Regions from separate parts of the Homo sapiens genome. Here region 2 is linked to region 1. A link means that fine-mapping ties the variant in region 1 to the expression of a gene that starts in the linked region. Tissue or cell type: whole blood. Region 1 holds a variant in brackets; the other region holds the start of a gene. All regions are shown on one strand. Distances are from middle to middle.

The links. PIP is the estimated chance that this variant, and not a neighbour inherited with it, causes the effect.
Region 2: MEST starts here. The variant in region 1 is fine-mapped to the expression of MEST in whole blood (TOPMed, PIP above 0.99).

What each region holds. Positions count from the first base shown.
Region 1 is chr7:130,726,672-130,731,874 of GRCh38, forward strand. It overlaps KLF14 (KLF transcription factor 14), which reads right to left. Exons shown (of 1, transcript NM_138693.4): 1 at 4,026-5,203. Among named protein-coding and RNA genes, the nearest start is that of KLF14, 4.9 kb to the right of the region's middle. The variant G/T (reference allele first, on the strand shown) is at 2,602.
Region 2 is chr7:130,488,981-130,494,107 of GRCh38, forward strand. It overlaps MEST (mesoderm specific transcript), which reads left to right and starts at 3,105. Exons shown (of 12, transcript NM_002402.4): 1 at 3,105-3,359. The coding sequence starts at 3,334. It overlaps MESTIT1 (MEST intronic transcript 1, antisense RNA), which reads right to left and starts at 1,997. Exons shown (of 2, transcript NR_004382.2): 1 at 1,862-1,997; 2 at 1-987. RefSeq lists a silencer at 1,933-2,142.

The DNA of each region.
Region 1 (5,203 bases):
TGTCCTGTTTTATTCCTGATAACTTTTTGTGCCTTCTATTTTATTTTATTTTATTTTTGAGACAGGGCCTCACTCTGTTGCCCAGGCTGAAGTGCAGTGACACAATCACAGTGCAGCCTCGGCCTCCCCGGCTCAAGCAATTCTTCAGCTTCAGCCTCCTGAGTAGCTGGGACTACATGTGCATACCACGCACTCAGCTAATTTTTTTTTTTTTTTTTTTTTCTTTGGTAGAGACAGGGCTTTGCCATGCTTCTTGAACTCCTGGGCTCAAATGACCCTCCCACCTTGGCCTCCAAAGTTTTGGAATTACAGGCGTGAGCCACTGCACCCGACCCTGACTTCTCTTTTTAAGAAATTTATATTTGCCAAAGAAACCTACTGTTATTCACCTTTTAAAAGAGTTTTGCTCAAAGCTACCTATTTTTTCTTGTTTCATTAATTTCTGCTTTATTAATGATAATATTTTTCATTCTTTTTTTATTATCACCCCTCCAGAATTGGTTTCAGATTTTTTTTTCCTAATCACTCCCCGTTCCCCACATCCCTATGAAATCTTAAACCACACATATAGTGTATATCTATTTATGTAGTATGCTGTTTTGGAGGCCACAACCATTGTAATATTTAAATGTTTTCCTTTTCTTCTGGAGTTGAAAGCTTAGTTCATTCACCTTCATTCAACCTTTCTCTTTTTTGAATAAAATATTTAAGGCTATAAATTACATTTCCTCCCCTAGTGTTTTTTGCTTGCTATATAGTGCTTTTTGTTTTCATTCAGCTCCAAATTTCTGCAATTTCCCCTTCTGTCTGACTTACGTAGAGGCTTCCTTTTACGGATTTCTCAATTTATGGATTTTTAATGATATTTTTGTTGTATTTTTATGTGATTACCTGCCTGAAGTTTGTCTAGACTTTCTTTGTATCTTACCATGTGGCCGATAGGAATGCTTGCAATCTTTCAACATTTAAGTTTGATTTTTATAGTAGGCTTTTGGCAGATACCTTTTATCAACTTAAGAAATTATCTTTTGTTACTAGTTTACTAAGGTATTTTTAAATTAAATCACAAATCATTGTTGATTTTTAACAATGAAACTATTGAGACGGTTATGCCTTTTTGCTTCCTAATTTCTATTAATTTGATCAATAACTTTGATATATTTCATGTGTCTCATCTTCCCACACTTTCTAAAGACTTACTTCTTTCTGTACGTTCTCCAAGCAACCATCTATATTCCCACTGACAATGGTAATATCACTGAAACTAAGCTAAAAATACTTGGAAGTATTGTTTACATTTTCTGTAATCATCTACTATACCTATCTCAGTGATAGGGATGATTTCCCAGTGCTTTCTCTGCAAATTTAAACAGGTATCTCTCAATATTTTCTTGGGCCTGAGATCCTGAGTGAAGACAGACATTCATGTAAAGCTTGCGTCCATTCTTTTGTTAGATCTCTTAGGGTTCTAATCACCTCCTCTAACCTACTAATAATTAAAATGCCACTCTCCTTTATAATTCCATGTTTAAGATTGTTGGCTACTGGTCTTTCTTATTTTTCTTTTCACATCATCAATACTGTCCTCTGAAAACACAACCTTTCTTCTAAATAAATCCTTCTCTTCTTTCAGCTTAATCAAACCATCATCCTTTCTTCAGTTTTCACCCTTGTACTGCTTCTATTTTGATTTCAAGATTTAAATATATATATTTGAAACAAATATGGCTCCCATTTTATTTCCTGAATAGACCCTGATTCCTAGGGAGAGAAGGATTCAGGCAAAAGCCTTTTTAATACTTTTCCTGCCTTTGGGATTATGGTATACAATGCTTTTCTCTTCCTCAAACCCCTATATAACAAAAACTTCCATTCCTCTTTATGTATTTGTGATAAAATCCACCATTTCTCTGTGGTTGAACACACAAGAAATTCAGCTGAGGCCTTGAAATTCCACTGTCAGGGCTTATATAGTAAACACATCTGGCACCAACTTGGAATATAAATAGAAGGTGATTCTGGATATCCCATATGAATTAAAGGATTTGGAGCCTCCCATTGGCCTCTCCTTAGCCCTATTAAAGGGTGCATTTCAAATCCAGATAATGGGGAAACTGATCTGATACCACCTGATACTTCCCAGAATAATTTAAGAGCTAGAATGTCCCTAACCTGTGCTCTTACATATACATGGAACTTATGCCACTGACCTTAGAATCCTCAACTGCAATTCTGGCTGAGCATAAAGGCAGCACAAATTGATCTATTGAATAGCGCCTTCCCTTTCTGCAGTGATCCTGTCTCAGTTACATCTATGTGAATCAAAATCAGCCACAGTGTTCTGTACAGCTCACTTTTGCCAAAGTCTATGCTCAGTGACTCTAATAAATTAGTGGCTTGTGTGAGGACACTTGCGATCATAGGCTGCTAAGATTTGAAATGACTAAAGAACTGAAAGGCTGAAGATCATTAAAGCATTAAAGCCCTGTACTCTGGCATTACAGACATCCAATCTCCACACATCTTATTTTGATTCCCTAATTCCAGGTGAAGTGCCTATTTCTCAAGATTTAACAGGCAAGGCACATCTCAATGTGGTGG[G/T]GCTTAAGGGAGAAAATTAATTCTACCTCTTTCCCCTCTATGTTATCAGCCAAATGAATAATAAATACAAGAATCAGACTAATGAGGGTCAAAATATCAGTACAGTCATCCCTCAGTATACACTGGGGATTGGTTCCAGGATCCCTGTGTATACCAAAATCCACGCATACCCAGGCCCAACTGGCCCTGTGAAACCCATGTATATGAAGAGTTTCATACTCTATTCGCATGTGACTTTTTGTATATGTGTAGAGAACAGCATATGAGCAGGCTCTGCATCCCACAAATACTCTATTTTTGAACTGTGTTTGGTTGAAAAAAATCTGCACATAAGTGGACTTGTGCAGTTCAAACTCATGTTGCTCAAGGGTCAACTGTTACTTTGCTGATTAAGCTGTATCATGGTCAAAACTGAGCTTTCTAATACACTGTCTCCCCTACTCCTCCTAATTCCTGGTCTTGGATCTGGACTACCCAAAGAAAAACATACAGTGGAAATACTTACCTGGATAGCAGCAAGGAACAGAGCTGCCCCAAAAGTAGAAAGAGAGAGAGGTGTTCTTCAAACCTGCCTCTAGAAGGCAGGTCTGGGGCTCAGCAGGTGTGTTTACCCTATGGAAGCAGGATCTGAGTGAAGTGCATGCACACTGCAGGCAGGGAGGTGCAAAAGAGAGAACTTAAGAGTGTGCGTGTACAATGACCCCCCCCCCCCATGTCTCCATCAGAGAATACAATCATTTCTCCTTTGGGGAGAAGTGTGTAGAGGTAGAGATGGGGGTCAAAAATGATATTCCAGAATGGTTCCCTGCTTGGAGAAGAACAGGGAAATAGGGACAAATGACATATTCTTGCCTCCATGGGTGGGGACAAAGCCTGTATTCTTCACATCCTCCCAGCAGAAGCAGGGGATTCAACTCCCTCACAACCAAGGTCTGATCTAGAACTCATTCCCAGCCTCCAACCCATATTTCAGGAAGAGGTGTATGAATAGTTTCTGCTACTAGGTCATTCCTACATCCGAACTGTGGATGGCAGGGATGGGGCAATGGCTCAGAGGTTCAGTCTGACCCCAACCAACCCCCATATGTACTCACTCATTGAGTGAGTACATCTGATTAACAAAAAGAAACCAAAGAAACACCAATAAAATTAGGAAGCCTTTTTCATGGCATTTCACTAACTACTCCTTGAGAACTCTCTGGTTGCTGGAGTGAAAAAGGTAACAACAATACTCAGACTAAGAAAGACCTACCTAAAAACCTTTATCTGGCTACTCCCATGTATGTGCTGAGTATCTCCTTCCCCACCACCTCAAGACCTGGGAGGAGTCAGTTTTACCAATGAAAGACATGTCACATTGAGATTGTCAGAGGCCATCTCCAGATAAAAGTCCCTAGTGTACAAGAACCCAAATAAGGACACTATTTGGGAGCTTGAGAATCAAAAGTTATTTATCAACAGGTGATTGGAAAAGCCAAGCTTTCTTGAAACCAATTTCAGAATGGTTAGTGGAAATTCCTGTTGGCTTCCTTGGTCCACTTACCCAATGGCAGATCTTCAACTGAAAAGGACAAAGAGGAAACAGTAGTCTTCAATAGGACCCCCAATGCCCTAGCTATCCAGCCCTAGCTGAAGAGACAAACAGAGCAAAGAGAAGACTCCTTCCACTACCAAAAATCACTTTCACAGTGGGGGGCCTTCTCCTCCCACATGTAACTCAACAGCCCCACCTTCCCTGCTTAGCCTTCATTAGGAAATACTGAACCTCTTCAGGGTCATAGGCCATACTCTTTTGGTCCTTTCTAAGGACCCCTCCCTCACTTAGTGTAGGAGCACTTAGTACAGTCCCAATGTCATGTTTGTATCATTCACTCTCTTGAGGATGCTGGAATGCCCAGGACCAGAAAAAGAAGGGAATTCACACTGAAAATTAACCTAGCAGGTCCAAAGAGAAAGTCTCTCCTAGGATGCCAAAAAGTCATTCTCACTTTATGTCCACATGGTGTGAAGGGAGGGAACGTAACCAGTTAAGAAAAGGGCTTTTGGGTCAAACACAATAGGCAAAGGGTTCAATCAACATGTGAAGGTACACAGAAGCAATACAGAATAGGGAGCGAGGGAGGGACTAAGATCCCAGAGAGGAGGAAGAGATGGGGGTAATCAAGTGTGAGGGAAAGAGTCACTTAGCAGGCCAGACACCTAAGTTCTAGTCATGGCTCTTCCCAGCAACCTAGCATATGACTTTGAGCTTATCTAGTCTTCAGTATCCTCATCTGCAAAATAGGGGAAAGCAATTTGTTTAACCAGATGCCCGTTAGGGTCCTATGAGATTACAGCATCTTCCCCAAGTGTCAGTGATGGACTATTGCAAAATATTCAGGAGGGGGCCAGAGGGGATCTCCCAGGGCAGGAAATGCCTTTCAGCCTCATCTCTAAAGAAAGGGTCACATATATACACATTCATACATACACAAGCAGAGTGGTCAGTGATTTCATCCACAGCAGCAGAGACACATATAGAAAAAACAAATACTGTTGATGTCTGATTCCTTCTTATCGGGAAAGGGGCCCTGAGGATATAACTTGGAGGGACTATATGGTC
Region 2 (5,127 bases), 240 kb before region 1:
CATTATGAAGTGTTTTAGTTGATTTGAATCTACAATGATGGCTCTTGAAAGTGGCAGTCCCGGTTGTGTCTTGTTGTCTCCATAAATATCCTGCACTTGTCATATTATGGGTCTCAAACTGGGGTTAGAAAAATATGGTTCTTGAATCTGTGGTACCATCTCTGCTGATCCCATACCACTGTTGTGAATCAGCGAGATAATAAATGCAGAGCTTTCTACATGAATTTTTGCACAGATCTGAGGTCTTATCATGAGGCGGAACTGTGTTAGACTTGGAATGTGACAAGAATGTGTGATAAGCCACTGGCTGAGGGAGTACTACTGCATGAGATATCCTGCACAGTCCAGGATAGCATCTGTCCAGAGGAACTGAAAGGGTGCAACTTCGAGCAAGCCAGAGCCGACTTTGAATTTATGTGTGGCTGTGTGTTTTCTCAGGGCTCCAAGTGTTTTATACCTTGGGTCAAATTCTCCCCCTGCGGAGGAAGCTCCTTTCTGGAAGTAAATCAGGCACATTTAGAAGATTCGTTAACTCTTTGGCTCCTGGGGGATTATGGCCAGCATTTTCTCTCTTAGACTTCCCACAGCGAATTCCTGGTTGGGCCAAGCTGATATCTTTGAGCTGACTTCTGTACTCAGGGTTCTTCCAAACAGGAATATGCTTTCTCTGCCTAAGATCTGGGTTCCATGCCCATCTCAACCTCAATCCCTCCTTCAAGGAAGTTTTTCCTAACTCCTCGGCCAGACATCAATAATGTCTGAAGGGAGGATTTCTCCCGAGTGCCAGACTTGGAATTCCTGTTGTCTTCAGGAGCTCTCCCTGGCGCTCCCTCCTTCCCCCAGGGCCTTTAAACTGTTTCTCCTCCAGTCTGCCCACTTGATCCATGTGGGTAGACATGTTCCATGGCCTTCAGAATAAGATCTTTTGTGGGGTACTCAGTCCATAAACAGAAAATTGCCTTCATCTTGGATGCTGGTGTTTCTGGCCTGGTGAGAATGAAAGTGTGGAATTTGTTTGTAGGACTCAAAGTTTCCATTAACAATAAATATGAAAAATATATAATGCAAAGGCTTTTGTTATTGTTATTATTAAAATAGGAAAGCCTTTACCTTTTTGGAAGAACCGATTTAGATTTTGCAGAGTAATTCAGTCTTTAAAAGGTAGTGGTAGTTAAAATAGGTAATCTTTGACTTGTAAAGAGACTAATTTAAATTTTGTTAAGTAACCAATTAAGGCCATAAAGAGTTTAAATCCATCTGTGGCTTCTCATTTTCTCTAGAACAAATTCCTAATTCCCTACGATGAAATTCTCTTGCTATCCTAATTTTTTGCCGGCTCAAAGGACTAACCGTTTTCCCCAAACACGCGGCCCTGAGCCTCCGGTGCTTTGCGAAAGCCGTCCCCTCCGGCTGGAATGTTCTTTGTCTCTCTGGTAAATGTCTATTCATCATTCAAGACCACCCTTCGCCCCTCCCCTTAATTACTTCCTCCCCTGTGCGCCCTCAAATTCTTGTACTCATTCAAGCAGTATTTATTAGGGGCCAGCTTTGTGGCCGGCACCGTGGCGGGCTCTGGGGCTACAAAAGGTGAATAATACTTGGGCTCTGCCTCTGAGGGCCTTACACGTTAGGGAGGAGTGGGTCAACTGCCACAAACGTCGCTAGGAAATTAAAAGGAAAATTTTACAAAGTGGCAGTTCTTGTCTGTCTTCCCCTCCAGATGGCCCGTGTGTTGTTTTCGGGCCGGGGCTATTTCTCATTTATTTCGCACCCCCGGTTCTTAGTGCCCTGTAGGTGCTAAATCAGCATTTGTTTCATGAGTGCTTTTTCTGGGGGCAACCAGACCCCTGCAGAAGTGTACCTGTGTTGTGCCAGAGGTTCTGATGATAGGCTTATAGGCGGTAGTTTCCTCAGTGTCCGTGGGTCGCCCCCGGTCCCGGGTTGGATGCCCCGCGGTCCAGCACCGAACCTTTCGGGGTGCAGAGTTGCAGAGCCGCGGAGGGCCCGGGCCGTGCGCAGCCGAAGGGAGGCCTGCAGCGCCCCCTCTGGATGCAGCGGGCACCGGCCGGCCGCCCCGCTCACCCGCTCGCACCCCACGTTTGTTCACCAGTATTTCAGTTTACGGTCAGAAAATGAACACAGACACTTCGTGATACTCTACACTTTTCAAAGGCGTAAGGGATGCCTTTTAAAGGATTATGGATTAGAAAAATTCCTCCCTCTTTCTTGTGCCTCTGGGCCCTTGCATTGTGATTCTATCTTACGTAAATAAAGGGGGCTTTGCTCTCCTAATTGTGCCCACTGTTCTGTGCAGCGCGGACCGGCGCATGCAGCGAGCGGGGCTGCGAGGGCGCTGCTGTGGCCAGGCGTCTGGCATGCTGACCACGTCGCGCTGCTGTAAAGGAAACCTGCCCCGCGCAGCGGCGGTGGCTGGAGCGGGAGAAACCGGACTTTGTGCAACTTTGGCCATAGTGGCCATCCCATGAATCTGTTTACTAGCTTGGTGGTGGGTCCAACAGAGCTTGTTGCTCCCTAGCCGCTTGCTCGTGCCCTTGGTGGTTACCGGTAGTTAAGCTTAGGGCGCATAGGGCCCTCGTGGCTCGCCACCTCTCACGGTTCAGTACCCACGCTTCGAACGAGGGATGGGAGCAGGCGCCACGGCCGGCACCCCAGAGCCCTGCTGCCCCTTAGTTCGAGCGGCCATCCTCCTGTGGGGCTTGTGGGCAGCCTGTGGGGTTTGTGGGCGGCCTGTGGGGTTTGTGGGTGGTCTAAGGAAAGAGTTGGGGCACTCAGGGGTCTGCTGTTTTTGCCCGTGGCCTTAACTCATCAGGGGAGGGTTTCTGCAGCAGAATCTCGGGCTCAGGGTTGGCGGTTAACGAGGGAGCAGCGGGGTCTTGGGGAGGGGGCTCGACACCCCTGAAGGTGCCCCCTAAAGGAGCCACTGTTAGAGGGGCACCCCATCTTTGTGGCCATGGCGGTGGTAGAGCGGCTGGGAGGGGCTCTGCGGCGAGCAAGGGAGCAGGCGGTAGGGGTTCTGCGGCGATGGGCGGGCTAGGGGCGGGGCGCGGGTGGGCTCTAAAAGTCGGTGCCCACTCGCTCCGCGCTGCCGCGGCAACCAGCACACCCCGGCACCTCCTCTGCGGCAGCTGCGCCTCGCAAGCGCAGTGCCGCAGCGCACGCCGGAGTGGCTGTAGCTGCCCGGCGCGGCGCCGCCCTGCGCGGGCTGTGGGCTGCGGGCTGCGCCCCCGCTGCTGGCCAGCTCTGCACGGCTGCGGGCTCTGCGGCGCCCGGTGCTCTGCAACGCTGCGGCGGGCGGCATGGGATAACGCGGCCATGGTGCGCCGAGATCGCCTCCGCAGGTGAGTGTGCGGTGGGAACGAGGGGGTGTGGCTGGCGGCCCTGGGACTAGGGCGCAGGCGAGCGGAGGACTGTGTGCCCGTGTCCGAGCTGGGGCTGCCTCTGGGCGAAAACTCTACCGACAGGCGGCACGCATTCCGCGCCCGCTCTGCCTACTTGAGGAGGGGGTGTCACTCCTGCCCGCAATGGAATGTTCAGAACGCGGGACCTCCTTGGGTTAGGATTTCTAGACCCCGGGATCGTCGTGGTGAGATTTAGGATTTCTGGACCCCAGCGTCATCTTGATATGACTTAGGATCCATAATGACCCTGGTCTCACCCTGATGCGAATTGGGATTTTTAGATCCTGGCATCACCCTGGTGCGATTTAGGATTTTTATACTCAGTCATTGCTGCAGCATGATTTAGGATTTCTAACCCCCAGCATCGCCCTGGTTTGATTTAGGATATTTAGACTCCGGCTTCCCTCTGGTGCGATTCAGGATTCTTAGACTCCGCCGTTGCCGTGGCGCGATTTAGGATTTATAGATCCCGGCAAAGCCCTGGTGCGATGTAGGATTTTTAGAACCCCAGCATCGCTCTGGTGCGACTTAAAGGATAGGCCCCAGCATCGCCCTGGTGCGATGTAGGATTTTTAGAACCCCGGTGTCTCCGTGGCGCACCTTAGGATTTCAAGAACGGGATAATCGCAGTGCCGAGATCGCCGCGGTGCAGCTTAGGATTTCAAGACCCAGGTATCACGGTGGCGGGAGTCACCGCAGTGACTAGAACTCGCAGTGCCCGTCAGCCGCCTTAAGTATTTTTCAGATTTCAGTAACAAGCGCGAGTGAGAACGGCGATGTGACCAAACTGTCATGTTGCGCAGGGATTGTTCACCTTGGTTTCGCGGGTTTTCAAAGTGGTTCGTCTCGCGGCGACGCCATCAGGTGGGCGGCAGGTTGGGTGGTATTATTACGGGAGTGTGTTTTTCTGTTTACAAGATGAAGAAATCAAGGCTCAGAAATTTTTGGAAAGTTTGTTACTGGAGTTTGCTTATTGTCTCCGCTCATGGCTCATCAAATAGTTGGGATTTTGGCCAAAAAATGTTTGCTTAACCCATTTTGCCTACTGACGGCTAGGTTGCTTCACTTCTAAAAATCCTAAAAGTTCATGGGGGCATTTTTACTGAGGTAATAAGACAAAAAATGGCCCCCTGAGAGGTTGCCTCTTTGCTTTCTTGGAGTAAGAGGAGGAGGGTGTGGAGGGGGGTGTCCAGGAGTGGAGTATGTTGGTCGATAGCCTCGTTTTTTAACCCCCCACTTTCCCTGAGCAGCGGCGGGGAAGCCTCCCCATTTGCCGCTCTGGCCGCCCCTCCCGGGGCTCTCTGCTGAGTCACTGCAGAGATTCAGCTGCTGGAACCCCGGGGATGAATGCGATGAGAAGCACTGGGGGAAAGGAGTAATGAAATCTGCACATGAAAATGTATACATTGAAGTACAGGACAGATAGGGCTGGGCAAATGATCGTCAAAACCTAATGGTTTTTGTCATCTGACCTTTCAAGGAGATACTGGGATACAGCCTGCTATTGTTGGGTGAAAACTGTGATATAACCATCATGTTCTGGCACTTTTTTGAACCATTTCTAGTATTACCTTGAGAAGTAGGACCAAATGGTTCTATCCGTCTTATGGACAGGTACTTTGGAGAAAAAAAGAAATGACTGCCCTAATAATGCCTAAAAAATAGCCTGGGGAGCTGACATTGTTTAAGAAACATGGTTATTTTACCA